2 linked regions of the Homo sapiens genome follow. The protein of the gene in region 2 interacts with the protein of the main gene of each other region in a pairwise test. Each region holds a gene or a part of one and is shown on either strand. Other genes may lie near its edges. The genes, in order: CLN8 and NDRG2.

Evidence for each region.
Region 1: the proteins of NDRG2 (region 2) and CLN8 interact in a two-hybrid assay, tested with the Homo sapiens proteins (one study listed by BioGRID).

Annotation. Positions count from the first base shown.
Region 1 is NC_000008.11:1,780,544-1,795,338, reverse strand, and holds the end of CLN8 (protein CLN8), read right to left. Parts: coding exon 14,772-14,795; 3' UTR 8,769-14,771; downstream 1-8,768. UniProt on the Homo sapiens protein: Could play a role in cell proliferation during neuronal differentiation and in protection against cell death.
Region 2 is NC_000014.9:21,019,101-21,035,451, reverse strand, and holds the start of NDRG2 (protein NDRG2), read left to right. Parts: upstream 1-10,390; 5' UTR 10,391-11,422; exon of another isoform or gene 11,423-11,476; intron 11,477-11,944; exon of another isoform or gene 11,945-12,130; coding exon of another isoform or gene 12,131-12,136; coding exon 12,137-12,211; intron 12,212-12,546; coding exon 12,547-12,588; intron 12,589-12,954; coding exon 12,955-13,060; intron 13,061-13,269; coding exon 13,270-13,390; intron 13,391-13,572; coding exon 13,573-13,635; intron 13,636-14,607; coding exon 14,608-14,668; intron 14,669-14,869; coding exon 14,870-14,956; intron 14,957-15,475; coding exon 15,476-15,532; intron 15,533-15,709; coding exon 15,710-15,813; intron 15,814-16,291; coding exon 16,292-16,336; intron 16,337-16,351. Other genes in the region: RNASE13 (probable inactive ribonuclease-like protein 13 precursor), read left to right, coding at 1,164-1,634; TPPP2 (tubulin polymerization-promoting protein family member 2), read right to left, coding at 3,375-3,560, 4,287-4,440, 4,698-4,870. UniProt on the Homo sapiens protein: Contributes to the regulation of the Wnt signaling pathway. Down-regulates CTNNB1-mediated transcriptional activation of target genes, such as CCND1, and may thereby act as tumor suppressor. May be involved in dendritic cell and neuron differentiation.

The sequences.
Region 1 (14,795 bases), on a different chromosome or scaffold from region 2:
AAAATTAAAGATGAAAGCTCTCAAGTTGAAAGGGCTTAGAGAGTGTCTAATAGGATGGATGGGAAACTTACCCATAATTGACAGTGAAACTCAAGAATATCAAAGAAAATTCCAAAAGTTTCTATGAAGAAGAGCAGATCACTGACAAAAGAGTAAGTTTCATTTCAGAGTTTCCAGAGGCCACAATGGGTGCCAGAAGACACTGGAGTAATATTTTTAAAGCCCTCAAGGAAAATAATTTGACATAGAAGCCAGGTGCAGTGGCTCACACCTGTAATCCCAGCACTTTGGGAGGCCGAGGCAGGTGGATCATGAGGTCAGGAGATGGAGATCATCCTGGACAACATGGTGAAACACCGTCTCTACTAAAAATACAAAAATTAGCTGGGCATGGCAGCGCATGCCTGTAATTCCAGCTACTAGACAGGCTGAGGCAGGAGAATCCCTTGAACCAGGGAGTTGGAGGTTGCAGTGAGCTGAGCCAAGATCATGCCACTGCACTCCAGCCTGGGAGACAGAGCAAGACTCTGTCTAAAAAATAAATAAATAAATAAAATAAAATAAAATAAAATAAAATAAAACATAAAAAAAGGAATTTGACATAGAATTTTATAGCCAGCTCAACTGTCACTGAAGTATAAGCACATACCAAATTATCTTCCAATATAAAAGGCCTCAGAAGATCCACTTTTCCAAAACTCACTTTGAAAACGTTCTTCAAGGAAATTAGAAGATAAATAAATCCAGGAGGATGTTGATAGGAACTATGGGTATAAAAAACTTTAGATCAAATAGATTTTAGTAGTCTATTGTTATCTAAAAAAGCCAGGAGCAGCCAGGTGCGGTGGCTCACGCCTGTAATCTCAGCACTTTGGGAGGTCGAGGCGAGCGGATCACAAGGTCAGGAGATCAAGACCATCCTGGCTAACACAGTGAAACTCCATCTCAACTAAAAATACAAACAATTAGCTGGGCGGGGTGGCGGGCGCCTGTAGTCTCAGCTACTCGGGAGGTTGAGGCAGGAGAATGGCGTGAACCCGGGAGGCAGAGCTTGCAGTGAGCCAAGATCGCACCACTGCACTCCAGCCTGGGCAACAGAGCGAAACTCCGTCTCAAAAAAAAAAAAAAAAAGGCCAGGACCAAAGTGAGGAGAGAAGATGAAGTACATTTACAACAATGCAAAAGTAAATATTTAAACAGAATCAACATGGGAGTCCAAAGATTTAATATTAATCTGCTCAGGAAATCAATACGATTAGCTATGTATTGATGTGGATCTTAAACTAAAGGTAACCACCATTAAAATCGATAGGAGAAACTTAGGGAAAAAGAAATGAATGTAAAAGCCAATTATGAATGAAGGAGGCAGAAATAAAGTCCTGCTGCAACCAGACACAATCAACTTAATGAGCTAAAACACCAATACGAAGCTTGGATTTATAAAGAAAGAATCAACAGTTTTCCAAGAGAAGCATATTTAAAAGTAAAGGATACTAAAAAGTTTAAAATAAATAGAAAAAGAAGTACTAGGCAAATTGGAATCAATATAAAACTAGATAGTAGCCCTGCTATCTGCCAAGTCCAAAGCAATCAGCGAACAGCATGCTGTTACACACCTGAAAGAGGAAACAGATGAACAAGATGCAACCATCATGATCACATGTGTACTTAAGCATGTTTCTTTAAAAAAGCAAAAACTGACCGGGTGCAGCGGCTCATGTCTGTAATCCCAGCATTTTGGGAGGCCGAGGCGGGCGGATCTCCTGAGGTCAAGGGTTTTCGAGACCAGCCTGGCCAACATGGCGAAACCTCATCTCCACTAAAAATACAAAAACTAGCTGGGCATGGTGGCGCATGCCTGTAATCTCAGCTACTCGGGAGGATGACGCAGGAGAATCACTTGAACCCGAGAGGCAGAAGTTGCAGTGAGCCGAGATTGCGCCACTGCACTCCAGCCTGGTGACAGAGGAGACTCCGTCTCAAAAAAAAAAAGCAAAAACTGACACAACTCTACAGAGAAAAACATAAGTTGGCAATTATACTAGATATTTCTTAAAACATATAAAATAGCAGACATCAAAGATTTGAAACATACAAATTCTAAATTATTATATTTACATAGAACTCTGCATCCGATGGAGACTATACTTTTAAAAATGCATAGAATGTTTACACAATTTGATCATATATCATGAAAAATGTATTTAGCAAGAAAGAAACACAATAAACTCTAAAGCAACAAAGTGTGTTCTAATGTAATAGTAAAATAAATTTTGAAATAAATAACAAAAGGATAGAAGTTTTAAAATACCACATTTTTGGAAAGGAAATGACATTACTAAATATCCCTTGGGTTTAAAAGTAAACCAGAAGAGGGTTACAAAATATTTAGAACCAAATGAAAATAAAAACAAAAATGTCACACTTTGTGAAACAATGTTAAATTAGCACTTAAAAGAAATTTTATAATTTCTAATGTATTTACAGGAAGCAAGAAAACTTCAAAATAAAACAAAATATTCAATACAAAAATCTGAAAACTGAATAGAAACACTGAATACATTGAAAACAACAAGAAGAAAGGAAATAATGAATATAAGGACAGAAACAAATAAAAACTTATCAAAAAGATTAGCCAAAAAAACCACTACTTCTTAGAAAGATTAATAAAGTAGAGCTTGAAAAAGACCAATCAAACCAAAAAACAAGCAAGTAAGATACAAATCAACAAAATATAGAACAAAAGACCCTACAGATATAGAGAGATTTGCTAACATAAAAAAGTACTTTTTAAAAAATGTTACATTAGTTAGGAAATATAGATGAAAGACATATGTTTTTCAAAAATATAAATGCTGAAATTGTAACAAGAAGGATTTCTGTAAAAAAAATCCTGCATGATTTCATGTGTAAGACGGCCTAGAACAGGTTAACTAATCTAAGTAGAAAAATAAACTAGAAAGGGATCAAAGACCTAAATGTAAAAGGTAAAACTAGAAAACTCTCAGAAAAAACTATGAGTGTCAATCTTTGCAGTCTCAGGTTAGGCAAAGCCTTTTGTGATATGATCCGAAAACCACAAACAACAAAAGAAACATAGAAACTTCTAGAAACATCAAGAGAGTGAGAAGACAAGCCCCAGAGTGCAAAGAGGTCTGTGCAGACCAGGTGTCTCATAAGTGGTGTGCATACAGAATAGATCCAGAACTCTTCCAACTCCACGATCAAAGAATTACCCTACCAGGCCAAAAGGACACCGGATGTGAAGAGGCGTTGCTCTCAGGAAGACACACGAAGGGGCCAGGTGCCAGTGAGGTCACTCAGCGTCATCAGCCATCAGGGAAATGGGAAGCAAGCCACACTCAGGCACCACCGCGCACCCACTAGCATGGCGGTCGCGACGCAGATGGGCAGTAACAAGGGCTGCTGAGGATGTGCCGAGCCCGGAACCCTCACGCACTGAAGGGAGCGTAAAGCAGCCAAGAGTGCAGGTGCTTCGTGAAACGGTCTGGCAGTTCCTCAGCATCTAACCAGCAGTGGGACCCAGCAGTTCCATTCCTAGCGGAATACATAAGAGAGGGGACGCCTATGTCCCCACAAAAACATGCACATGATGTTCATCCCAGAACTGTTCATAACAGCCAAAAAGGGCAGATGACGCAAATGGCCATCAACTGATGGACAGCTACATAAAATGTGGTCAATCCATACGATGGGGTATGATTTGGCAATAAAAGGGAATAAAGAACTGGTACACGCTACAACACGGATGAACCTTGAAAACATGGTGCTGTGTGAGAGAAGCCAGCTGCACAAGGCTATGTATTGTATGATTCCCCTTATAGGAAATGTCCAGAATGGGCAAATCCATAGAGACAAAAAGATAGCAGTTGCCTAAGGTCAGGGAGGAGGACTGGGGCGGGGCGGGGGGAGGGGGGGCGGGAGTGAGGGTCGGGGGGCGGGAAATGGGTAATAGCTACTAATGGGGACAAATACTTTTTTTTTTTTTTTTAGGTGATAAAAATGTTCTAAAATTGATTGCGGTGGTTTCACAATTCCATGAATACTAAAAAACACTAAATACACTTTAAACGGGTGAATTTTATGGTATATGAATTATAGTTCAGGAAAGCTGTTAAAATAAACGAACTGGTTCCTTTTGGAGAAAACAGGGCAGGAGAAATAGAGAGGAGAAGACATTTCTCTGGGCACAGCTTTTTGAATAGTTTTAACTTTTGGAATCATGACATTTTACATATTCAAATAATAAAATTATCAAGAATCGGGGAAAATGCTACAACAGAATGCCAACAAAGGAACCCAAGTGTCTGTCAAATGATTAGCCATCATCTGAAGGGGAGTCGGGACAAAACAAATTTAAGTAATTTTTGGAGACAGCACTTTGACTGCATACCCTCAGACTAAAGAAAAAAGCTGCAAACAGATCTGGAACTCTCCATGGGTTTGTTTCTTGTGGCCCTGTGGGTGGAGCCATTCCAAACCTGCTCTGTGTTACAGCGTGTTTGAGCCATGCGTGATGCTGTCTCTGCTGTTGTGAGCCGGGGTCGTCACCATGCAAGACGGGATGCACAGGAATGAGGCAGGCAAGGAAGTGCCGTGGGGCTGGGTTGCAGCAGAGGTAGAAGGGTGTGGAGGTTCTGATGGCCCATGAGCAATGAGCACATCTCCCACCCACATCTTAACTTCTAAATTCCATTCCTCACTAAAAAGAACCAGAATTCTCAGAGAAAGGGCTGGATCCAACCACACGGCAGAGAAGGCGTGTGTCTGCTGCATACAAAATAAGGACGTGGCCAGGTGCGTGGCTCACGCCTTCAATCCCAGCACTTTGGGAGGGCGACGCAGGCGGATCACAAGGTCAAGAGATCGAGACCATCCTGGCCAACAAAGTGAAACTCCATCTGCACTAAAAATACAAAAATTACCCAGACATGGTGGCACATGACTGTAGTCCCAGCTACTTGGAAAGCTGAGGCAGGAGAATCGCTTGAACCCAGGAGGCAGAGGTTGCAGTGAGCCGCCACTGCACTCCAGCCTGGCAACAGAGTGAGACTCTGTCACAAAAAAAAAAAAGCAAGAAAGAAAAGAAAAGAAAGAAGGACGTGCTCCATATACACCACGGAATACTATGCAGCCATAAAAAAGGATGAGTTCGTGTCCTTTGCAGGGACATGGATGAAGTTGGAAACCATCATTCTGATAAAACTATCACAAGGATAGAAAACCAAACACCGCATTGTTCTCACTCATAGGTGGGAATTGAACAATGAGAAGACTTGGACACAGAAAGGGGAACATCACACACCGGGGCGTGTCGTGGGGTGGGGGGAGGGGGAGGGATAGCATTGGGAGATATACCGAATGTAAATGACGAGTTAATGGGTGCAGCACACCAACATGGCACATGCATATGTAACAAACCTGCACATTGTGCGCATGTACCCTCGAACTTAAAGTAAAATAAAAATAATAATAATAATAAAAAGAAATGCAGACATGTAAAAAAAAAAAAGAAAAAAGAAAATAAGGATGTGCTCAAAACAAGGACTGGTACAAAGAAGGACGATTCAACAGCCTGAAGAGACCCCCACAGCAAACCTGGAACAACGGGAGCAGCAACATCACAACAACAATCAATTATAACCCACTATAAATAGAATACCGTTGCCAAACAGAGAATCCAAGAACCCACAGGGATAATAAACAAACACTGGGAAGAAAGTAGCCCTTCTTTATAGAATGCAGTAAGAAGTGACGGAGTTGGAAAATTAGCAATATTGAGCCATCACCGTGAAGGTTGACCCAACTGAGTGCAAACGTGACTTGGTGCCAGTGAGGCCAGCTTGGGGCAGGAGGCAGCTTTATGTGCAGACAGGGCGTTCTCAGCCTCAGCAGATCTCCCGCAATATACCCAAGGACGAGGAAAATCAGTGACTGTTCAGAGGAGGAACCACCTTATCAGGGACCAAAATTAACATTGCCAATCAGGGCAAGCTGACAGACGTCTCTGTGTTTGATATCTCAAGGACACCGTTTACAGAGCACTCCAGCCAGAAATATATAACTCGAATTCCATCCTGACAAAATACCAGACCAAACCAAATTGAGGGCATTCTTTAATATAACCAGCTGGTATTTGTTCAGAAATATCACTGCTGTTAAAGACAAAGACAGGCTGAAGAACTGCAGCAGGTTAAAGAAGAATAAAGAGATATGATTACTAAACAGAGCATGTGATCTGGTACTCCGTCCTGGACCAAGAAAAAAAAGGATAGGAAAGAAACCGTCAAAGTTGGAATGAAAACGGTAGATGAGATAAAAGGTACTGGCTCCATGTTACATTTCTTGAATTGATAGCTTATGTGGTTACATAAGAGAATATCATTATTCTTAGGAAATAAACATTGAATTTTTTATTTTTTTTTTAGACACAGTCTCACTCTGTCACCCAGGCTGGAATGAGATTGCGTGATTTCAGCTCACTGCAACCTCCACCTCCCGGGTTCAAGCAATTCTCCTGCCTCAGCTTCCCTAGTAGCTGGGATTACAGGTGTGCACCTGGTTAATTTTTTGTATTTTTAGTAGAGATGGGATTTCACCATGTTGGCCAGGCTGGTTTCGAACTCCTGGCATCAGGTGATCCACCCGCCTCAGCCTCCCAAAGTGCAGGGATGACAGATGTGAGCCACTGTACCCAGCCAATAAACACGAAAGTATTAAGGGGTAAGGGATATAAAGTAACGTAGGGGAAAGAAAGAAAGAGGAAGAGGCAAGGAGAGGGACAGAGACAGTGGGAAAGGGAAGAGACACTGCTATGACAAACGTGGCAAAAAGTTAAAAATAGATAAATAGGGATAAAGAGTATATGGAAGATTTGTTCTTTTTTCCCCCTCAAATTTCTGTAAGTTTGAAATTAGTTCAAAATAAGAAGCTAAAAACAAAAATAAAACGGAACAGAGCAACTTCCTTTAAACCAGGAAGCCTCCTTTTGAAGCTGCAGCATCTGAGATGCAGGCGGCGAGTCCAGCCCCTCCACTCTGTCTCCCCTCCCAGCCAAGATGATTTTTAAAAGTCCACAGTTGCAAACCGTAAGTGTCTCCTAGGGAGAGCTTTCTATCATTCACGTGGTTAACATGGTTAGCAGGTTAACACCTTCATCCTGTGTGTTTAGGAACGTCTGTGAGAAAGGGTAAAGGTGAACACGGCAGGTGGGGCGTTTCCTTCACTTTTGCGGTCAGGCCGGTGTTTTCCTTGCGTGATGGGACCCCAGGCTGGTGGCCCAGGGCTGTGCCACTCGTTGCTTCCCATGCCTGAGTGTGGATGTGGATCCTCATGCCTGCCCCTCATGGTGCCAACGGCAGGTGCCCCTATAGGCATCGGGACTGTATTTCAAGGAAAAAGGAGGCAGGAAGGGGCGGGAAGGTGTCCTCAATCCAGGCTTGCCTTCACTTGCAAAGGCAAACGCACTCAGCTGCAAGCCCTCCCCTTCTCAGTGGCCAGAACTGTGCTGTGTGCATGCCAAGGGCCAGAAGACAGACACCAGCTGGCAGAGGACTGGCTGACCAGGGACCGACGCTGGCAGAATGCAATTCCAGTCCTGCAACTAGTTCCAAATTAAAATGTAAAAAGCCACATTTAGCAAATGAGATTTTTCCTGAGCTTTATTTTTTTAAGGGCTGCGTGCTTTCTATTTGAGATAATCTGAAATTACAGAAAACACACAATGGGAATATCGCATGGTGGCCTCCACCTTTCTAAGCTTTGGCTGTTGCCACAAAACCACTCTATGGCTCTAACGTTCTGTGCTCCGTGATTGTTTTGTGTGGAAACAAAATCTCTGGGGTTGACCAGATATGCTTGGAAATTCCTTGCAACAAATGAAACAGCAGCTAAAATGCACTGTGTTCCAATTGGGATTTTGCATTTCCCATATGATTTTTGAAAAACAACACAGAAAACGTGAACGTTACAAGGACTATAAAACTTTTCTGTGTAGGCCAGGCACGGTGGCTCATGCCTGTAATTCCAGCACTTTGGGAGGCCAGTATGGGAGGACTGCCTGAGCCCAGGAGTTTGAGACCAACCTGAGCCAGACAGCAAGACCCCATTTCTACACAACAAATTTAAAAATTAGCTAGGCATGGTGACATGCGCCTGTGATCCTAGCTACTTTGGAGGCTGAGGCAAGAGGATCACTTATGCCTAAGAGTTTAAGGTTACAGTGAGCCACGATCACGCCACTGCACTCCACGCCTGGCCGATAGAGAGAACCTGTTTTAAATTAAAAAAAAAAAGTTTTTTATGTAAAGTTTTGGCAGAAACTTTTCAGATTGAGACTTGACATTTAATAACTTTCTGTAATAATGGAGGATTTTAACTTTGGTTTAATTTTTGGACTCTTTTGATGGGTTTGAGGTTGCAGGTATCAAACCCTGCAGGAATGGGCTGTGCACGGCTTCAGGCGGGCTGGAGTGCTAACTGAGGCTGCCAAGCGTGAAACAGCACAACGGTAAAAGCAAAATACATGCAGAGAGAAAAGAAATGAATTCACTCCATGGGCCTGCAGATGTGGAAAAGAAGTGTCACTAAGGCCAGGCGCCTGTGCTCTGGGGTTCCTGGCCAGGTTCCCAGAAGGAAGGGTGTGGTTTCTTTTTCCTCTTGGATGGCTGGCTGTGGGTCCTGGATACCTCGGAATCAATTCCAGACATTTGGGGTTGAGTCATCGGAAGAAAGGAAATAGAGACGTCTGAATTTTTCACATCACTATATTTTAAACATGATTAGGCAAGTATATTTTTGTTACTAAAATAGTAAATACATTTTACTAAGAGTGAAGTACATTTTGTTACTAAAAAGGAGAAAAGTTATTCAAAATGATAAATATGGAATTAATAAGCTCTCGCATTAGAAGAAAATAGGAAGAAAGTTAGCAAAGAAAGGGGTGAACTGAAAGCGTCAACATGCATTCGTGAAAGTCTGGGTGCAGTTTATTCTGATTTACTCTGAGGTGAGCTGAAATCAGGACCGCAGGGTGGGCGATGCATCTGTGACAAGGCTGGACAGACTCATGGGTGCCTGCCCCCCCTCCTCCTGCAGCCCCTCCCCCAGGGCAGGCCTCCTGTCCTGGGAGCCAGGCTGCTGGCATGTCACACAAAATCACGTGTGCTGGGTTCTGCACAGAGCAAAGCCAGGTATGCAGCACAAGGCAGGCTGTCTGGCTCTCGAAGACCCCGATAGAGAGCCCCCGCAGGCTGGGCATATTCTGACCCCAGAGGTGGCAGCTTCCTGCAGTTCCCTGATCTGTCATTCCTGTCCTGTGACTTCCAGGGAGGGGCAGCTCCTGGGAGACCCACCAGCTGACACCTGGGACTCTGCCCTTCCTTCCTAGGCTGCTGTGTGAGTGGGGCTGGGGTCTGGAGACCCTGAGGGCTGCCCCAACACCAACACCCCTGCCTGTGCTCCTCTTGTGACATGGGTGCGTCCTGTCTTTACTGCCGAAGCCACAGCAGGGGTTTAGGGAGCCCGTGCATCTGACCAGTACCTGTCTAACCCCACGCCGCCTGTGCCACCGTAATCTGACCGGTACCTGTCTAACCCCACGCAGCCTGTGCCACCGTAATCTGACCGGTACCTGTCTAACCCCACGCCGCCTGTGTCACCGTAATCTGACCGGTACCTGTCTAACCCCACGCCGCCTGTGCCACCGTAATCTGACCGGTACCTGTCTAACCCCACGCCGCCTGTGCCACCGTAATCTGACCGGTACCTGTCTAACCCCACGCTGCCTGTGCCACCGTAATCTGACCGGTACCTGTCTAACCCCACGCCGCCTGTGCCACCGTAATCTGACCGGTACCTGTCTAACCCCACGCCGCCTGTGCCACCGTAATCTGACCGGTACCTGTCTAACCCCACGCCGCCTGTGCCACCGTAATCTGACCGGTACCTGTCTAACCCCACGCCGCCTGTGCCACCGTAATCTGACCGGTACCTGTCTAACCGCACGCCGCCTGTGTCACCGTAGTCTGACCGGTACCTGTCTAACCCCACGCCGCCTGTGTCACCGTAGGACAGAGCACAAAGGAGCACCCAGGATGCACACCTGACACACTTCGCGGCCGAGCCGCAAGCCTGAGGAGCGGGAGACCCTCGCGGTTCAGCGGCGTGAGGGCAGAGCGACGGAGCCCCTCCGCTTCTGTCTGCGTGAGCACATTCGCATAGAACAAGAGTTCTGACCTGGTCAAACACTTGACACGCACATAATGGAGGAAACTTTTGGCATGCTATCAAATGCTTTCTCACATGCACACAACATCTCCTCCCCAGCATGAAGGAAAGGCAGCTGACCCTGGCCGACCCCACCCCAGGCTGGCCCCCACCAGAGGCCCGAGCGTTTCCCCTTCTGGCCACACGTTTCCAGTGGCCACCGTTCTCTACTGAGGACATCACCTCCAGCCGCTGGTCTTGCCAGGCAGCCTGTGCGAGGGTGAAACTGGCTGCCCAGCCTCCCAGCCCTGCCCTTACCGTGGTAAATTCCCCCCTCAGCAGGTGTCCCCATATCAGCCCTTGGGTCTGTCCCCTGCAGGGCCCTGCCTGGCAGCCCTGGGTACTACTGGTTCATCCACTCCCTACTGCCAAGCAGCCATCCTGTGCCAGGGACATGGGGCTTAGAATCAATCAGAGAATAAAACAGATGCAACCCTGCCCGTGTGGAGCTCACAAAATTCGGACATGGGAAGAGAACCACATTCACCGGGTGCTGATGCTGCAGTGTGACCGTGTCCCCTCCAGAATTCACATGACATTGTAATTGTCATTGCGGTGGTATTAAGAGGTGGGGCCCCCTACTCTTGCAAATGGCTTAATGCCTCATAAAAAGGCAGCGGAGAACTAGCTGAGGCCTGTTGACCTTCCATCCCCTCCACCACGTGAGGATGCAGTGTTCCCAGCAGAAACTAATCAGCCCACACCTTTATCTTGGACTTCCAGCCTCCAGAACTGTGAGAAATGATGTCCGTTCTTTTTTTTTTTTTGAGATGGAGTCTCACTGTGTCACCCAGGCTGGAGTGCAATGGCGTGATCTCGGCTCACTGCAATCTCTGCCTCCCAGGTTCAAGCAATTCTTCTACCTTAGCCTCCCAAGTAGCTGGGACCACAGGCATGCACCACCACCCCCAGCTAGTTTTGTTTTTTTAGTAGAGATGGGGTTTCACCATGTTGGCCAGGCTGGTTTCAAACTCCTGACCTCAAATGATCCACCCGCCTCGGCCTCCCAAAGTGCTGGGATTACAGGCGTGAGTCACCGTGCCTGGCCTGAATGTCTGTTCTTTATAAACTACCCAGTCTTAGGTGTTTTGTCACAGCGGCCCATACTGCCTGAACCACGACTTTCTGCGCTAAATGCCGTGTTGAAGAGCCCAGCTCTGGCGCCGGAGGCTGCGCCCAAGGCAGGCACGGCTGTTCACGAGTTGCGTCACCTTGGGCACGTCATCACCTCTCTGAGCCCCGAAGCTCCTCGACAGAAGTGGAATCAACAGTGCCCATTTCATTCAAGTTGTCCGGGCGAAGAAAATGGAAAATCATGTCCCTTAAGCGCAATACCTGGTAAAAAATCTCACACTGAACTGCGGCCATGACAACTCCAGCATCACCCAAGGAGCCTGGACACCGAGAAGGGCAGAAGCCTGTGCGGCCCAGCCCCCGCAGCGCGGCGAGGAGGCTGCACCAACCCTTGGTCTTCAGTCACTCAACCTCCCTGGCCCATTCTGTTTCCCAACTTAAGAAACAAAACAAAACATAGGTATAGAGAAGGATTTCACTATCGAAAGAGAAAGCGCACTGACAAGTGATCACACTGAAGCCAAGCTGGAGAGCCACATCCTGGCTAAACGCAGGGCCATTTTCTATCCGGGTCACCTGCCATCAGGTGGAGTTAAGGCCGATATTGCCCAATCGTCCTAGTTTTCAAGCAGTTCCAGAATTCCTGTTATGTGAACTCACCTCGTTTAACACTTGCTGTAACTCTCAATAGAGGATGTGAAGCACGCAGCACACACGTGCAGCTGAATGCTGGCCAATGTGGGCCGCTGAGTGGGCCGGGCCCAGGCTCACACCAACCTGGCACCAAGAAGTCAGAGCTCATGAATGTCGCTTGTACCATGCTCCACTATAGCTACATCCCCTCACACTGCCGGTCAGGGAGACTGAGGCCAGTGAGGACCATGGGAAAGTGCTGTGCCATCTGGAAGGTGTACGCATCATTAACATTTCACGAAGCCTTTTCCACCCCTAAACCCCCAACTTCAGGCTCTGCACTGAGGGGTCCCCGGACCAATGTGTGGGTGACACTGGACGGAGCGGGTGAGCCTGTGCTTCTCTACAGCACCTCCATCTCTATGCATCCACACACGCGTATGAAGATACAGGAGGTAAAGTGTGGACCCCTGGGAAGGTCAAAGTCCTAGTGGAGGTGAGATAAAAATTAGGCTGTCCACTTCCAACTCCAAATCGAATTCTGAACACATGATGAATTTATCATTATATTTTCTATCTCCAAGATAAAGCATTCACAGCAATATGAATAGGTTAGTTTATTTTGAGAGAGAGGAAGACATCATTTGGGTTCTGTAAACATCAGTCACTTTATTATGCCTCTGTCTGGCTGAAAAACACCAGCTCCTGCTGACTCCACAAGGGCACGGCTGCAGAGAGTGCTGCCTGCCAGGTGTGAGGTTTCCAGTTAAAAGTTTCAGCAGGGACACCATTTGCTGGATGTGTTTAAGATTAAAATTGCTTCGTAAAATGTGATAAATAGGTTACTATACACCTTGGTCAATATAGTTAAAGCACCAGCAATCAAAATACACCGCTCCGGGCCGGGTGAAGTGGCTCACGCCCGTAATCCCAGAACTTTGGGAGGCCGAGGTGGGCAGATCACTTTTAGTCAGGAGTCAGAGACCAGCCTGGCCAACATGGTGAAACCCTGTCTCTACTAAAAATACAAAAAATCAGCCAGGCATGGTAGAGGTACCTGTAATCCCAGCTACTTGAAAGGGTGAGGCAGGAGAATCCCTGGAACCCGGGAGGTGGAGGTTGCAGTGAGCCGAGATCACACCACTGGACTCCAGCCTGGGAGCCAAAGCCAGGCTCCGTCTCAAAAAAACGAAAACAAAAACTAAACAAAAACAAAACACTGTTCCGAGAGTTCCATAAAACATAAGGAACGTAAGTCACACATGATTCTCACGAGCAGCCGACGTTTTCCACGTACATTTCAAAGGTGCTTGTGATAAAAAATAAACTTTGAATTTTAATTGCACGTTTATATCAAAACACTCACACACACACACACACACACACACACAATTCTGTATGTCTGTTAACAACATTGCTAAATTGCTGTGTAACTTCTACCTGGGTATAAAACAGTAGAACAATGTACCTTGGGACTCATCATCAGGCAGCTCATTGCCAGGGGCTGCTGCAGGACCACTCTAGGGACCCCAGGACCCTGCAGTCGAGCATCTCTGAGGGGTCCAGGTCCACCCTACAGCTCAGGGAGAAAATGACATCACTACTTGTCTTGAAATCTACAGAGGAACACCAACCACAGAATTAGGGTCTAGATTGGGTGCCTGTAGGTAACTCAGTCAATTAAAAACAGCTCTGAAACCCAGACAACCTGATTATGAAATCCTTACCTTATTTTGTCAAATGAGCAACACAGTATGAATAATAACTTCTCATTTTAAAACAGGTACCATGATTTAAAAAAAAAAAAAACTTGCAAGATTTCATCTTTACCAGCCCACGCTCTGGTTGGTGGGGGTTAAACTCCAAGGCGTCTCTGCTGCTACAGGAGTCACTACCCCTCAGCGTTGTCTTTGTACCACTTGCCACCAGATGGCACTGCCGTACACTTCGGTCTAGAATTTTTTTTTTTTTTTTTTTTTGAGAGAGAGTCTTGCTCTGTCACCCAGGCTGGAGTGCTGGAGTGCAGTGGTGCGATCTCAGCTCACTGCAACCTCCGCCTCCCGGGTTCAGGCAATTCTCCTGCCTTGGCCTCCCAAATAGCTGGGATTACAGGTGTGTGCCACGACACCCGGCTAATTTTTGTAATTTTAGTAGAGATGGGGTTTCACCATCTTGACCAGGCTGGTCTCGAACTCCTGGCCTCAAGTGATCCACCTGCCTCGGCCTCCCAACGTGCTGGGATTACGTCGGGTGTGAGCCACCCCACCCAGCTTAGAATTTCATACGCTGGGAAGCTTTAATAAGGAACAAATCATGTTATTTTCTATCTTAGCCCAATTCTCTCCAACTGAAAAGAATGTGACTTCTGAATAAGACACACGGCATATGAGTGTGCAGCTGGAAAGAGTCAACGCTGACCCACCCGCCCTGTGGGAGGCACTTCACTATGAAGCCATTTCCAGCATTCAAAGCCACCCCACTCCTCAACAGGTGTGACGCCCCGATGCCTGGACACCATGGACTCCTCTCCTAGATGCTTGACACGGTCCGGCGCGGCTAAACTGACAGAGCCTGCCAGACAGTCATAAAATTATAATTTCTTAAAAATACTTTGTAGCTACTTCAAAATTAATACTAATGCGAAAGAAAGTTAGTATTTCCCTTAGAAGTAAACACAAAACATTCACTGCCTCATTAATTCAAAAGCCATCATTCGCGGGGCTTCCCAGAATCGGTGTGCCAGCTCTGCTGCCGCCCCGGAGCCCCGGCTGGAGCAGCTATGGCCTCTTCTTCCGCAGCAG
Region 2 (16,351 bases):
TCTGATGAAAGGGAAGATGTTGATGAAAAAGATAGGAGCGTGGCCCTTTCCCCAGCATGGCAAACCACTCAGAGATCAACCAACAGTACGAAACGGATCATGCCAGGCTCTGGCATCCACAGCTTTTCATGTTCAGGTTATGCTTTCAAATCCAAACTGCCAAGTTTGAGGCTTCAGAGTCAGCATGCAGAGATTTCCAGTAGTGCTCAAACTCTGACAGGGCCTGAGGTCACAGGTGAAGGCTGTGGGTGTGACAGGAGTAAGGCTGATAGGGACCGTGGGGAGTCCACATGGAGGTCTTTGATTCTCAGCCCAGCACTTTGGTGGGAGGCCCCTGAGTACATGCCCTCCTGGGCTCCCGTGAGTGGGATGACAAAGTGGCGAATGCTCTGTTCTCTGAGGGTCAGGAATAAGAAGCACTTTGTTCCTCAGAAACATAACAGTGCTTTCCTACTCACCTTGCCACGAGAGCACAGGCTATGGAACAGAGAAAACATCAAAGAAAGCCCAGGCACTTAGGAACTTTTGGCAAGGAGATTGGAAGTAAGTGTTCCAATGACACTGTAGAGGAGGAGACCAGATAGTAATGCCTCTTTCCTCCCACCCATCCAACCCTCTTAGCACAGGGGCTCATCAAACTCGGGGACATTCCCTCCTCCCAGACTGATTTTTACCTAGAAACCTTTCTAGCCTCTCCTCATCTCTTGACTGTCTTGGCCTTGGCAAGAAGAATACACGTCCCTACCCAGCTATCTTCAGCTCCTGTCCTTCCTCCCAGCTGCCAGAGAATTGTCAGGTCAGCCTGCTCCTTCTTTCTTCTCTGCATTTTTTACTAGCAGGAGTGCCAGGGGCCCAAGGACTCTTGGGAAGAGTCTCTCACCCAAGGACCAGTTAGAGCTCTTATTCTGCAAATGTAGCTCACGGACTCTGCAGAGGCTGAGATTCTGTGGTGGACCAGGGGAGCAGGGCTGGCTGAAGGTGGCTGGTTGTCTGGGTGGCCTTGGGCAAGCATCTCCTCTTTCTGGGTCATGAGAACTTGGTTATGGGTGAGATGATCTCTAAAGTACTGTTGGGTTGGGAATGCTGGAGGCTCTGGGATGTGGCAGACAGCCACTTCAGGCCCACTGCTGCCCCCAACCACCTTAACTCTACCAGCAGGAGGAATGGCACCAGCTGTGACCCGGCTCCTTTTCCTCCAGCTTGTTCTGGGGCCAACTCTGGTCATGGACATCAAGATGCAGATTGGCAGCAGGAACTTCTATACCTTAAGCATTGACTATCCCAGGGTTAACTACCCAAAGGGTTTCCGGGGCTATTGTAATGGTCTGATGTCCTATATGCGAGGCAAGATGCAAAATTCAGATTGCCCAAAGATCCATTATGTGATACATGCCCCTTGGAAGGCCATCCAGAAGTTCTGCAAGTATAGTGACAGCTTCTGTGAGAATTACAATGAATACTGCACACTCACCCAGGATTCCCTCCCCATCACGGTCTGCTCCCTGAGCCACCAACAGCCACCCACTAGCTGCTACTACAATAGCACCCTAACCAACCAGAAGCTCTACCTACTCTGCTCCCGCAAGTATGAAGCTGATCCAATAGGTATCGCTGGTCTCTATTCGGGAATTTAATTCCTGAGCCACTCCCCAACCTCTACCACCACAGGCCAGCTGTCTCCATTTCCAACACTCTGATCCCTGTAACAAGACTTCCTTCCTGACTTACGAGGCAGGCAGGGTCCCCTCCCAAGAGACCAGGTGGGTGCGAAAATGTCCAGGGCTTTGATCACCATGCAAAGTGGTGCTATCTTCTAGGTTCTTTCCAGCTTGTTTACCCCCTCTTCGCCCCCACCTCCTCATCATCCTTCCTCTCCCAGAGACAGTAAAACCCACCCAAGAAGTTGACTGTGTCCAGTTGGCAGTGACTGTCCACCCACTGGGCCAGATCCTAAGTCCTGGATGGAGGCCCAGGGCCTCAGCTCACACCATGGCAACAGGCACCAGCTCCGAGTCTCACCTCCCCATCCCCACCAGCCTTCTCATGTCAGCCTCCCCCAGTTCCCTTATAATTCCCTCCACTCACCCACCTACTCAGGGGATATGGCTAGCTATAGGAACCTCCCTGAGGCCCTCAGACTCATGTTAGCCTCACTTCCCCACAACCCCCAGTTTCCAGCCTGCTTCTCTCTGTGAAATCATGGTTTCTCCCTTCATATAACTGTCCTCTCCTGCTTCCTCTTACCATGGAGCCTAGGACTGTCTCCCCCACACTCCCAACAACCGTAGTCACCCTGCCTTCCTTTTTCCAACCTCTTTTTCTTCCAGTCTTCTTACCTTGGCTCACTGGCATTTCAAGGTATCTTCTCTCACCCATTCCCCAGAGGTTCCTGCTTCCCTTCTCTTCCAGAAGCTCCTCCCAAATCCCCCAGACTCCAGAGTCTGCCCCTGACCAGGCAGCGAATGAGGCAGGCCCGGCTCTAATCGAACATAAATTTCTAAAACCACATCTGAGTATGTAAGATGTAACCATTGGGGGAAACTGGGTGAAGGGCACACGAGCCCCCTCTGTACCATTTTTTGTAACTTCCTGTCAACCCATAATCAATTCAAAATAAAAAGTTAATAACACACATCTGACTCTGTTGTGATTTAATTGCTTTTTCTTCAGTGCACCAGAACTCCTGCTCTTGGAATCCTGGCAGCCTGCCTCATCTGGCCATCTTCCTGAGCTACCCTTAGCAGTCAGTAAGCTCTTCTGTCCCATGTGCCCCATGATGGAGGTGATGTGGGGTAAAACTTAGTTCTGGGCTGGGTGTTGAAAATAGACTCTCCCCTTACCCCAGCTCTGGAACAAATTTGTAATAGAAGTCAGGCAACCTTAGCTGGCTTCTACTCCTCCACCCAAAAAACCTGAATTGCAACAGATGAGGAAGGTGGAGGGACAGGGAAGGATCTAATATGTGATATAGTCATAGTCCATCACGTGAGGAATTGCTACACCCTTTTGAGGGGTGGGGGTGGAGAGGTGGATATCAGTAATGTGTGAACACAAGTAGTAGATACTTTTACCTCCACATCTGGTTCATCTCTTTACTCCAAATATATTCTTCCATCCTGTTCTTGGAAGCAGCTGTTGAGGAGGAATGCTAACTGATGGCTGGTAGGCATAAGGCTAAGCAGAGCGAAGGGTGTGTGGTGGAGAACCCACCCTCCTGTGCTGCCTCTTCTCCCTCTCTCTACACTAGTAGGCTCATCTGTCCCTCACAGACAGAGATTTTGGCTGCTGCACACACAGATGTTTATTGTTTTCCAAGCTCCCTGGTGTTAAACATGCAGGGTCAGGGGGCTAGCAGGCTGAGATGAAGCTCCTCTCTACTTGGTCTTCTTATCGTAGGTGCCAGAACCCTTGTAACCACTCACATAGCCTGTGTTGTCAGTCATCTCTTCCCGTCCCGCAATGCCCTTGCCCTTGCCACTCTCATCAAAGCGCTCCTTGTGGGTGCCGGTGTACTTGCTGGTGTCTGTCAAACGGTCCACTGCACCCACTGTTGTTGCTTTCTGCAAGCCAGGGATGGATTTGAGCTCTCTTCCTTTCCTTACGCTGTCATATCCCTTCCCCAAAGATGGCCCGAGATACTTAGAACAAGTGCTTGGAGCTCTTGCTCTGCCACTGGCATGGGGTGCTGCTTTCTTAGGGCCCAGATACAGCTGTGGGCAGGTACTCTGGTAAGAGCCGTTCACTCATGGGGGAGGAGGAGTGTGGTGTGGGAATGAGTGTGGCGTGTGCAGAGGGAGGGTAGGTTTTTTGTTTCCAGAGGAGTTATTCTGACTAGGCTGCTGCCTGAGGACTTCACTCCCACTCCCCGACTCAATATCCACTGTAGAAAGAGCTTTTAGTTCAGACAGGACAATTAAAAAAGGGAGTAGGTGAGAGGCAGGAGGCCTGAGATTAAACCCTAAATAAGAATTGGAAGAGGAGTGGGCATCAGGTACCAAATTCTCTACACTAATGTCCTCCAAAAGCTACCAAGCCCTAATTGCCTGGCTCAGATACTAGACACTTGGAAATTAGTCTAAATCTACTATTAAAATAGCCATGGACCTTGGGCAAGTCACTTCCCTTCTCTGGGCCACATTTTCCTGACTTCTGGAATGTCTAGATGATCTCTAAAGTCTGTTTCGGCCCTGTCTCTACAGTCACACAGTTGGCAGGGTTAGGGAGGGTAGACTGGAACAATGGGGATTTAGGGAAGTAGGGTCAAGGGGATGAAGGCTGTCACTCACAGTAGCGCCAGTGGTGGCTGGGTCTTTGCCCTCCATGAGTCCATAAATGTTCTCCAGGACTTCATCTGGACTCTTCCCTTTGAAGCGCTTCTGGCCCAGTTCCTTCACTGCCTCTTTGAACTGTTGAAACGTGATGGTTCGGGCGTTCTTGGCCCTGGTCAGTTAGACAGAAATCCAGAAACTTTGGAGCATGAATGCATTACCTTCCAAGGTCCAACTCTTGCCTCACTCAGATTTGGCCTCTTTTGTCCTATCAATCAGTGAGTGTCTCGAAGACAAAGGATAGCACAGCGCCAGGTACCCTGTGGTGCTTGGTAGGCCCACTGCAAATGTTCCACCACGTGAACCCTTCCGTGGCCAACTACCTCGCAGGTTCTTCTCACCCCCACCTCCATATTTTTGGCTCCTCACTTGACTTTGCTGAACACGATGTCCACGTCCGTGGAGGTGACTGTCTTGCCATCCATGATGCCACAGTCTTTGCACAGCTTGGAGAAGTTCTTGTTGTTCATTTCAGTGCCACTGCTTGATGATTCTCCAAACGCAGCAAACCGATGGAATGTTTTTTCTGCCTCTGATGCCATGGTCAGCTAGAGGTCGGGGAGGGCAGTCGTGGGAGACACTTGGGGGTGAAGGAGAAGGGGGAGGGAGGACTGTGGAGTAATGAGGATGAGTGTTATGGTAAAATCAGTCAGCAACAGGAACAGCTCCCCTCTTCCCTGTTGCTCTCTCCTTTCTCCCTCCCAGCTCCCATTGCACCTACGCAACTACAGCATGAGTCTCCCATTCCCAGCATTGGAGATACCAGTGTGGATCCTACCTACTGAATGATCCTCTCTTTCCCCTACCTCTTTTATGTACCTTAGAGTACCCGGATGGTGGTCTGACCCTTCCCGGCCTTTGTATTTAAGTGTGTGCAGATATGTGGGAGCCGGTTGGCTGTGGCAATGAGGAGACAGAGGGAGGAGAGGGAAGATTCTATGACCTCAGCAGTGGTTATGTGACATCACTTCTGGCCCCAGCTACAGCCATTGCCTTCAAAGGAGGGGGCTTTTGGTCTCCCTACCTTGCATGCCGAATTGAGCAAACTGCCAACTTTCTGACCTTTTCAGATGATCACATTTCCATCATTTCAGCCAAGCTTACCCATCCTCTGGGTCCTAGTCAAATTGCCTTATGCTCTGCCCCACAACAGAAGCTGAGGCGAGCCCAGGGAAGGTGTTGTAGTCTGTTTGGGCTGCTAGAACAAAATATCAAACTGGGTGGCTTATAAACAACAGACATTTATTTCTCAGAGCTCTGAAGGCTGAGAAGTCTAAGATCAAGGTGCTGGCAGATTCAGTGTTTGGTGAGGGCTGCTTTCCGGTCCATAGATGGCACCTTCTTGCTGTGTCCTCACATGGTAGAAGGGGTGAATGAGTTCCCTTGGGCCTATTTATAAGGGTATGAATCCCATTCAGAAAGGCTCTGCCCTCATAAAACTTAATCACCCCCCAAAATGCCCCATCTCCTAATACCATGACTTTGGGAGTTAGGATTTTATTTTATTTATTTGCGTATTTATTTTGAGATGGAGTCTCGCTGTCTGTTGCCCAGGCTGAAATGCAGTGGCATGATCCTGGGGCACTGCAACCTCCAGTCCCAGGATTCAAGCGACTCTCATGCCTCAGCCTCCCCAGTAGCTGGGATTAGCCCAGCCACTATGCCTGGCTAATTTTTGCATTTTTAGTAGAGACGGGGTTTTGCCATGTTGGCCAGGCTGGTTTCGAACTCCTGACCTCAAGTGATCCACCTGCCTCAGCCTCCCAAAGTGCTGGGATTACAGGTGTGACCCACTGCGTCCAGCCGGGAGTTAGGATTTTAATATATGAATCTGTGGACAACATAAACATTCAGACCACAGCAGTTAATGAAAACGGATTAATGAAAACAGGCTGTCATGTTTTCTAGTCTCCAGGCTCAAGTGTAGCATGGAGAATCCCACTGGCTTTAAAAGGCCAGTCGCAATAGAAACATTAAATAGCTTCCAGTGTTGGGCCCAGCAAGCCTTGGAGTATAACAGATGTGGACAGGTCAGGATAAAACTGGGATAGACTGAGGGTGAGGCTCAGATTCTGAAAATCTTCAGATAAGTTTCTATGCAGGTCAAAGATGTTCCTCAGGGTTTTCTCTCTTCGGCCTTTTCTCTGGCCAGAAGCACTACAGATAGATGAACCTCACGGATCCTAAAACAGAGCAACGAGACTGGTGACTTTCCTCCTTTTCCCATCTAATAATGCCACCACTTTCTATTTTTTTTCTTTGTCTTACAAATCTATGCCTTTCTTTCCATTCCTATTGCTTCCACCCTTATTCAAGTTCTTATCATCTCATAGTTGGATGACTACTCTGGTTTCTAAATGATCTCTTTTCTAAATCTAATTCTTCACTCCCACCCACCCATAATCCATCTCTATTACCTCCTCCCCATCAGATTAATTTTCACAAAACAGTATTTTTTATTACTCCTGCTCAAGAATATTCTGTGGCTCAAGATATACTATAGCTTCTCATTGCTAAATCTTTTTGCTTAGCATTCAAGGACCTATACAACTAACTAGGCCCCAATCTACCCTACCAAACATCACCCACCTCTCATCAACATTATTCTTGGGCAGGGCACAGTGGCTCATGCCTATAATTCCAGCACTTTGGGAGGCCAACAAAGTGAGACCTTGTCTCTAGATAAATAAATAATAATAAAAAAATTAGTTGGGAGTGGTGGCATGCACCTGTAGTCCCAGCTACTGAGGAGGCTGAAGTGGGAGGATTGCTTGAGCCCGGGAGTTTGGGGCTGCAGTGAACTAGGATTGTGTCAGCGCACTCCCACCTGGCTGACAGAGAGACCCCATCTCAAAAACAAAACAAAACAAAACAAAACAAAAAGAACCCCAAGAAACAAAAAACCTAAGAACCAGATTATTCTGCAGCTGGGGTCATATGGCCTAATTGCTATACACTTGACAGGCTACTTGGGAGTGGAAGGAGCATAGTCCCTGGAGTGGAATGGACCGGGGTGGGGAAATGAATCCTAGATATGTCATTTACTAGCTGAGTGGACTTGGGCAACTCACTAAACATTTCTGAGTTTCAATTTTCTCATCTGTACAGTGAGGACGATAACACTAACCTTACGGTATTAGGGGATAATACATGGGAAGCTACTATTCAGTTCTCCAAAGTAACCTGAATGTTTCTGCCTCCAAACTGTCCTTCATGCTCTCTCTGTGCCTGGATAGAATGCCCCTCACTCCCACTCAAGTATTCCATGGTTGCACTTCTCATTTGGTGGTTCATCCTAGGAACAAAGCCCTTTTCCTTCTCTGAATTATAGTAAGATAATGATTTCTAGACTGTGGGCCACAGCCTCCTGGCGTGAGGATTTCTGAAATCTTGCAAAGGGCCCTAGAATCTGTATGTATAAAGAGTGAGTGTGAACTGAGTAAATAATATGCCTTGCATGTGTAGGTATTACCGCATTTACAGATGTTGTGACAGAAACTTACTTCAAAGTATTGATGAATTCATAGTTTGCATTTTCTCCATCAGGGGATACTATACCTATTATGTGGGGTTGGAAATCTCTAATCTCCCACTTGAGAAGGGTGGGAAACTACTGCTATAGGACTTACTGTCCAAATGATTGATCTTATATATAACTTGTCCTGTGTTTGTACCTTCTCTTGACAAATGTCAAAATGTCATTTCTCATCACAAATGTCTAGAGAGGGTGTGACCAGATGCACACTTTGAATTTCATCTACACAGTGGCTTGCACATAACAGATACTTAAAACTGTTGCTTACTTGAAGGTATAGTGTGAAGCTGCTCTGGCCAAAGGGAAAGAGTTTAGACAGAGATTGTCCTTGCAACACTTACACCCTGGTTGGGCTGGGAGCTGCCCTGACATGGAAGAACCATATCTTAGGGGAGAACCAGCCTTACTTCTGCCTGCAGCAGGCTGGGTGGGACCCCAAGGTCTAGGAAGCCAATGGATGTCAGTGGAAATTTCCCATCTCCTGCCTGCCCTGCGCCCCTGCGTAGGCCCCTTATCAGGTTCCCCCTGAGTCATCCTGACCCAGAGACGAATTTAGATGCTGGAACCTTCAGGTCCTTCCCTCCCCCACTCCAAGTAAGACGACTTTTGACAAAGAAAAGCCTGCAGGCAAAAGTTCTCACTCGAGGCTCTCCCTCTCCCCAGGTTCCTCTGGTGCTGATGAGATCTCTCCTGTCTTGCGCACCTTTGGCTGTGACCCTTATTCCAGCAGGCTTTTCCTTGTCCAGGAGAGTGTTAAACTGGCATCCAGAGGGAAGAGGGGACTAGGAGAGGAGCCAGGGTGCCCAGCTTCTGTGCCAGTTTCTGGGGAAAAAGTTATAAAGGGAGTGGGAGAAAGGAACAGAAGAAAAGTTGGGTGCTCCAAATTGGGGGATGTAGGGGGAGCTCCTTAGATTTGGGGTTGTTGAAGGCTGGGTTTTAGCCCGACCAGTTTTCCTACTGTGGGTCACCTCCTCCCTCTTGGCCTCTCCTTCTTTCCAGTAGACCCTGCCAAGTGGGGATGAAAGGGGCATTGATGTTCCTTGGATGGGAGGGGTATTGCGGGTGGTGAGGGTGGTGGTGGGAGGGTGGTTCCCAGGCAGGAGGGGGCAGGGAAACTTGGGGGTCTTGGGGGGGCAGTCGGTGCTGGTGTTGCAGTTGGCAGCTCAAGTTCCATTGGCCATTGTTCCTGACTGGCCTGGCGCCCAGCCCCCGAAATGGCAACTCAGGAACCAGTCTGAAGGGGGTTGGGGTGGATATGATCCTGGGATTGGGGGAGCTACAAGGGGGGCAGGTGGGGAGAAATTCAGTCAGGTTTCCTTTTGCCTAAACAACTTCGAATTCCCTTAAGCCACATTTTTAATCAACTAACTCATTCCAGGGAGCCTTCCTCCGAGGGGCACAAGGAGAGCTCATTCCAGGGTGTGTGTGTGTGTGTGCGTGTGCGTGTGTGTGTAAAGTCTACAGTGGCAAACCCACTCGGGCACCGAGAGGGACGCGGCAGACCCTGAGACCATCCCCCGGGCATTGCGATTCAGCGGGCCTGAGCTGGTCTCCTATTCTGGGCCGGACTGGGAGGGGTTAGCGGCGAAGCCACAGGGTCTCTTGGGTCCCAGCCCAGGACACTGCGTCCTCCCCAAGCCCCTACTCCACCCCCGCAGGGTTAACTCCGCCCCTGCGCCTGTTTACCCAGGAGTCAGAGCCTCTGGGGGTCCCCGGCCCCTCCCCCGCGCCCCTTGAGGCATTGACCCCAGAGTCCCTGTTGGCCATCCTCTCCCCACCCCCCGCCTGCCCGCGATCGCCCTCTATTTATAGCGGCCCCCCGCATTCCCCGCCCCCACCTCCCCGCCTTGTTGTCCAACTTCTCCCGGAGCAGCCGGAGAGCAGGCGTCGGGACGCAGCAAAGAGAGGAGAGGTACCAGGACTCTGGGCACGAGGGAGTCGGAACTCCTGCGCCCTCGACGTTCCCCCGTGCCCCCTTTCGGCGCCAGCACACCTGCCCCTGCCAGCCGGCGAGACCCCCGCCTCCTCAGCGGCGGTCCCGCCCACCTCCTCCTTTCTTAATCTAGTTCTCTGTGTTCGGGCGGGGGGAGTCGAACTCGTGGGGTGTCAGTATCCCGGGTTCGTCTCCCCACTACCGGTTCCCACCACTGAGTCTGGGGGCGAAGGAAGGAGCCAGAGTGCAATTGCAGATCCAGGTCGTGGATGGGGCGGTGCTGAGGGCAGCCGAGGGATCCCTCTCAGGGCTGAGGGATCCCCGCACTCCCCACACCGCCCCAATGCGGGGAGGGGGTGGTGGAATGTTTTGGTGAGCCGAGCAGAGCCTGGAAGCGTCCAGCCGCCCGCCCCTCGCCCCCCGGCCCCAGCACAACCCTTTCCTGAGCGGCAGTCTGGGCGGGGTGAAAGGGGGGGCGTGTTTACTGGGGGTCTGGGGCGGGTCTGCGGGGAGCCTAGCGCCCGTGGGCGGGCTGGGGCGGGCCGGGGGCGGGTCTGCGGGAAGCCCGAGCCGGGGCGGGCCCGAGTCAAAGGCAAGTGAAGGTGGAAGCGGCCGCGGCGGCAGCAGGTAGGGGGAGGGGCAGGCGAGGGGCCGTAGGGCCTGGAAGGCGCCAGCCGGGCCGGCGGGCGGTGTGATTGATCCGCGTCCCCTGGAGCTGGAGGCTCGGGGGAAAGGGCCAGCACGGAGCGGGCGCTCGGTTGCTGCGCACAAAGGCTGAGGCTCCAAGAGCTGCAGGGCGTGTTTGGGGTGCGCGCGAGGTTGTGTGCAAGGTCCGGGGCGCTTGGCACCGGCCACGCAAGGGTGTCAGTCTCCACGCGGACGGGCTGCGTAGGGACTCGTAGGGACGGGTTCCGGGTGCTGGGCCCGGCCGGTCTCCTCTGTCCTACCCATCCCTTCCCGATGGCGCTTGCCTTCGCGGGCCGTCGGGGGAGAACGGGAGAAGATTGTGGGACCGCTCTCCTCTCCCTTTCTCCACTCGTGGGACCTACACGGAGACTGAGTAGAGGAGAGAAGCGACGGCACCAATCTTTGTGTTTGTTTTTAAATTGTGGAGGGAAACAGCCATGCTCTGCTACCCTCCTCTTACTGGAGAGCTGTCAAAAATTTTGGGGATCCCCTATTCCCCCGCGTTTAGTCCCCCTGCAGATAGAAAATTGAGGCCAAATGTAGTAACTAACTGGGGCAAGGTCACACTGGGAGTGGCAGAGCCGGGATTCGAATCCGGAGGTTCTGACAGGGCCACCCTCTTACCTCCACATCAGCACTTCCTTCTCTCCTCCGCGCAGCCTGAACTGATGCCCTTGTAGCCTATATTGATTCCGGCTCGAGCCTAGAGAGGACGTGTTCTCTGGACTTAGGGGTAGACAGACACTGGGGAGGGTTAGTGACCCGAGGAGGTTGATGACCCTGGGAGTCTGGGTCTTGGCTGAGGCTTTCCGTCCCTGAAAGACCCCAGGTCTGTCTCCCATGTCATTCACCTCGTTGCTGTGTTTTCTCAGACCCCAGAGTCAGAAGGAGTGAGAACCCTGACCCCTAATCCCACTGCATCCAGCCAATAGGAGCCCAGTAAGTGACCCCACCCCGCAGGCTGCAGGCTCCTTCCTGTGCAGGTCTGTCCAGGTGCTCTGCTCCTCACCCACTAATGTTGAACTTGCGGAGTTTATTCAGAGTTGGGAGGAAGGGTCTTGGGAGGAAGGGAGGCATTGGGTTGGTTGGACAGATGTCCCTTTTATGTTGTTTTCCCCACCTCCCCCATTGGTCATGTTGCTTTGGTCATTTTTAGCCCCCTTTGAGCTGCCGACTTTGGGGCTTTAATTGAAGGTCATGGTCAATTGTGAACTCTCACAGTCCCGTCTTTTGGTACCCTGTCCTTTAGAATACTCAGTCACTGAGCTACAAGTTTCACTCCCTACCTGAGAGTGTGGGGTGGCCCCTAAATATAGCCCGAGAAATCTGAGCTACACTTCTGCCCCACCCTGGTATTTTGGTCCAGGGCAGAGGAGGGAGGGGTCTGGAGGTGTGGTGTTGAGGGTGGCAGTGGGGATGGTGAGTATCAAGAGAAGGGCTGTCCTGATTCCTCTTCCAAAGCTTCCACCGATCAGCCTGGAAACGGAGCTGGGGGCAGGAAAGGCCCTCTGTGTGTTCTAGAGTAGTCTTCAACCCCTGGGTCCCTCTGTTCCCTGCATCTTCCTGTGCTGAGAGAGGAAGCCTGGTGTTTGAGGCGATGTGGGGATGTAGAGACAACTTCCCAGTCTCATTTCCTCATCCTGCCAGGCCACCATGGCGGAGCTGCAGGAGGTGCAGATCACAGAGGAGAAGCCACTGTTGCCAGGACAGACGCCTGAGGCGGCCAAGGTTATTAGAGACCGTTTGACTCCCATGCCCAAATTCCAGACCTCTAAGCATCCCCCTTGCCTTCTAACTTCCCAAGCGTACTGATCTTATTCTAACTCACACCACTGCTTCACCACTACCCTAGTCTCTCTCCCCATACACTATAATTGGGAGTCAGGCCCTTGTCTCGTCACTACACTAACCTTCATCCTTTCCGTGTCTCTCTTTGTCAATCTCTTTCTGTCTTTGGTCATTTGTTGGTCTGTCTTTACTTGCCTCTCTTTGTCTGTTTGTCTCTCCATCTGGGACGCCACATGGTCATGTGTTTCTGTGTGAATCCGTGTGTGTCTCTCCAGGAGGCTGAGTTAGCTGCCCGAATCCTCCTGGACCAGGGACAGGTAACAGTGTGGGGGCAGTCCCAAGGTGGGAGGAGGGGCTGTCCTCTTCCCCAGTAGAAGGATGGCCTCTGCTTGGCCCTCTCTTCTCTCTTTGCTTTCTTTCCTTCTATTCTAGTCCTTTCCCTTCCCTATCTCTCCCCTCTCCTTCCTTCCCCTCCTCTTCTCTCTCTAATCTTCATTATTCTTTCTTATCCTCAAACTCATCTTCCGGTATCATGTTTTCCTCAATTCTTGCTGATCCTGTTTTTAATTCTTTGTTCCCTTTTCCCTCTTGCCCACCCACTCCCAGCTCCCTGACCTTGGTGTTGCTCCTTTTCTGGCCTCGTCTCCTCTGAGCCTAGCTCTTGGTGCCCTGTTTTCCTGCAGACTCACTCTGTGGAGACACCATACGGCTCTGTCACTTTCACTGTCTATGGCACCCCCAAACCCAAACGCCCAGCGATCCTTACCTACCACGATGTGGGACTCAACTGTAAGGACCTTCATTCATCTCCCACTCCTGTCTGGGAAGAGGCTGTGGGGGAAGGGTAGAAATGAAACCCAGAGGGAGGGGAGGGGTCAGTGTGGGAAGGAGAAGTTCTCTCCTGGTCTGACTGTGGCATGAAAGGAAGGGTGAGTTCTGACTGGGGGACACGAGTCCCTGTCTGATTCTATTGTTGAGGTGATGTGGGTTCTCTTTAGATAAATCTTGCTTCCAGCCACTGTTTCAGTTCGAGGACATGCAGGAAATCATTCAGAACTTTGTGCGGGTTCATGTGGATGCCCCTGGAATGGAAGAGGGAGCCCCTGTGTTCCCTTTGGGGTAAGAGTTAGGTCGTTACTGCTTCACCAGACTGTGAGGAACAGGACAGGTGCGGGAAAGGTTCGACTGGGGAGGAGGAAAGGGAGGGCAGTGGTTATTCTGGGAGAGAATGAGTAGGACATCCTGAGGTGGGGGGTGTGAGGGCAGGTTGGTATCTTCCTTAACATGCCTCTCTTTTCCAGATATCAGTACCCATCTCTGGACCAGCTTGCAGACATGATCCCTTGCGTCCTGCAGTACCTAAAGTGAGAGGCCTGGGAACCCCTCCAAACCAGAGTTCTCTTTCCAGCACAAGGAGACCCTTAGAACTTCCAGGTTCACCGTGGTTCCTGAGCCAGTTTCAGCTTCTGAACTCAATATATCTTCTTCCTTCATGCTCCCGCCTTGATTATTGAGAAAAGGTGGTGGGTTTGGAAAATTGGCCAGAGTCAACAGAATAGCCCTAATGGGTGGAGGGAAGGAAAAGGGTCTATGCTTGGCCCTGCCTCAGGCTAAGGAGGGCCTTCTCTGATCAGAAAGTCAGGGAGGAATGAAAGGGGGTGACATAATCCCTGAGGAACCAGATAGACCTGTCTCTTTCTCTCCCACTCCCCTCTCCTTCATGCCCACACCTGGTGGATGGGGAGCTCTGCGGGTGAGAGAGAGTTGGGGAAGGAAGAGAACACCAGACCAAGTGTCTTTGGTATTCAGAGGGAGGTGCTGGCCCCTGGGTGCTGTTCTTAGCTAAGCTTCTCCTAGGCACCAGGGCTCAGCAGCTCTGGTTCACCACTTTGCCACTCTTTTCCTCATTCTCTCCATTGTTCACTAAAATTGTGTCTGTTTTCACATTTGCTTTAAGTTCCATTCTTCCCGTTCCTCTAGAGGAACCAGGAACTAAAGCAGAACAAGTTGAACTGGCTCTTGAAAATTGAGAATGGACAAAGAGCTATCTATATGGGAAAACAGTGTGTTGGTTGGCTGGTGGATGGGTGTTTGTTTTTAAGACACTAGCTCTCCAGCAGAAAGCTGGGGATAGACTTCAGGTATCTACCCTGACTACCCGTGCCAACCTTTGGCTTCTTGGGCCCTTCTTTTTCGCGTCCTCCAAAGAAAGGTCCGTGTCTGCCTTTCTTTGTGCCCGTGGACTCAGGAGGGAGGGTGAAGAGTTTGAAGAGATGGGCTGTGGCAGGTTTTGGACAGCAGATCCCATGAGGCGTATATTTCTTTCCCTTTCACAGTTTCTCTACAATAATTGGAGTTGGTGTTGGAGCTGGAGCCTACATCCTGGCGAGATATGCTGTAAGAAATAAAAAGCCCAGAGGAGGGAAAGGAGGGTCCAGACTGATTAGGAGAATACTGTTTATTAGTGCTGTTTGGGGGAGGAAGTGGGCACTAGGTGGGGAGTCAGGCCCTGTGGGAGTCCAGGAGTGGGTCGAGCTTAGCGGGGAGGGGATAAGGCCATGCCCTGTTTCTCATTTCCTTCCTTCTGCTGTCCCTCAGCTTAACCACCCGGACACTGTTGAAGGTCTTGTCCTCATCAACATTGATCCCAATGCCAAGGGTTGGATGGATTGGGCAGCCCACAAGGTTTGGAGGGGCCTGTGTGCTGAGACCTACGGTTGGGGATCCCCTCGTATGGATCCAGTTAGGCTCTGGTAGATAGCCTAACTGGATGGACTCTGAACTTCAAGGAGGGAGTAAAGGGGCAGGAAAGTGAAGCTGTCACTTTGCCTGAGTCTCTTATAATATCCTGAACTTTCTTTTTCTTTTTCTTTTTTTTTTTTTTTTTGAGATGGTGTCTCACTCTGTTGCCAAGGCTGGAGTGCAGTGGCTTGATCTTGGCTCACTGCAACCTCTGCTTCCTGGGTTCAAGTGATTCTCCTGCCTCAGCCTCCCAAGTAGCTGGGATTACAGGCACCCGCCACCACGCCTGGCTAATATTTGTATTATTAGTAGAGATGGGGTTTCACCATCTTGGCCAGGGTGGTCTTGAACTCCTGACCTCGTGATCCACCCGCCTCGGCCTCCCAAAGTGCTGGGATTACAGACGTGAGCCACTGTGCCTGGCCAATACCCTGAACTTTCTCACCTGCCTTCTCCTCATAGCTAACAGGCCTCACCTCTTCCATTCCGGAGATGATCCTTGGACATCTTTTCAGCCAGGTAAGTGGGTGTAGGAGATGTAGAAGAGTCGACGGGAGCAGCAGGGAACTTGAATGCTTGGGCTAACTTCCTTAGCTGGGACAGGATTTGGGGAAGGAAGAAGGCTTACCTCTTTTCCTCCAGTAATTGTTGTTTTCTCTTTCCATCCCTAATTTTTCTCCTTGTTCTCTCCTTCAGGAAGAGCTCTCTGGAAATTCTGAGTTGATACAAAAGTACAGAAATATCATTACACATGCACCCAACCTGGATAACATTGAATTGTACTGGAACAGCTACAACAAGTGGGTGGGCTGTGTGTGTATGCATGTGAGAGAAATGCAGAAGCAGTAATTGGGCGTCATGGGGGAGGCACAGAGGAGGAGAGGGAAGTCTGGGTAGTGTGCAATGTGCAAGGAATGCAGCATTTAGTGTGCAATGGGGGCAGCTTCAGGACAGAGTCAGTGGGAAGGATTGCAAGGGGCTGTCCCCCTTCTCTTGTTTACCTCCTTTGGATTATTGGACTCCCAGAAGTAAGATGATCTTGTGTCCTGTGTCCTTCCTCCCCTTTTGTTGCCCTCTGACCAGGGATCTAGGGCACAAGTGACTATAGGGGCTGTGCTTGGGGCCTGCCTGCCCCTTTCTCCTTTGGTTTCCACCTTTAATAACCAAGATTTGACCGTAATTTTTAGACAAAGATAGTTCCATCATGGGAGAGATAGCTTATATCTGGTTAGATAGCATTGCCCACCTAAAATTCCTACTCTTTTAACCCCTTTCTAGCCGCCGAGACCTGAACTTTGAGCGTGGAGGTGATATCACCCTCAGGTAAGACTTTAAGAG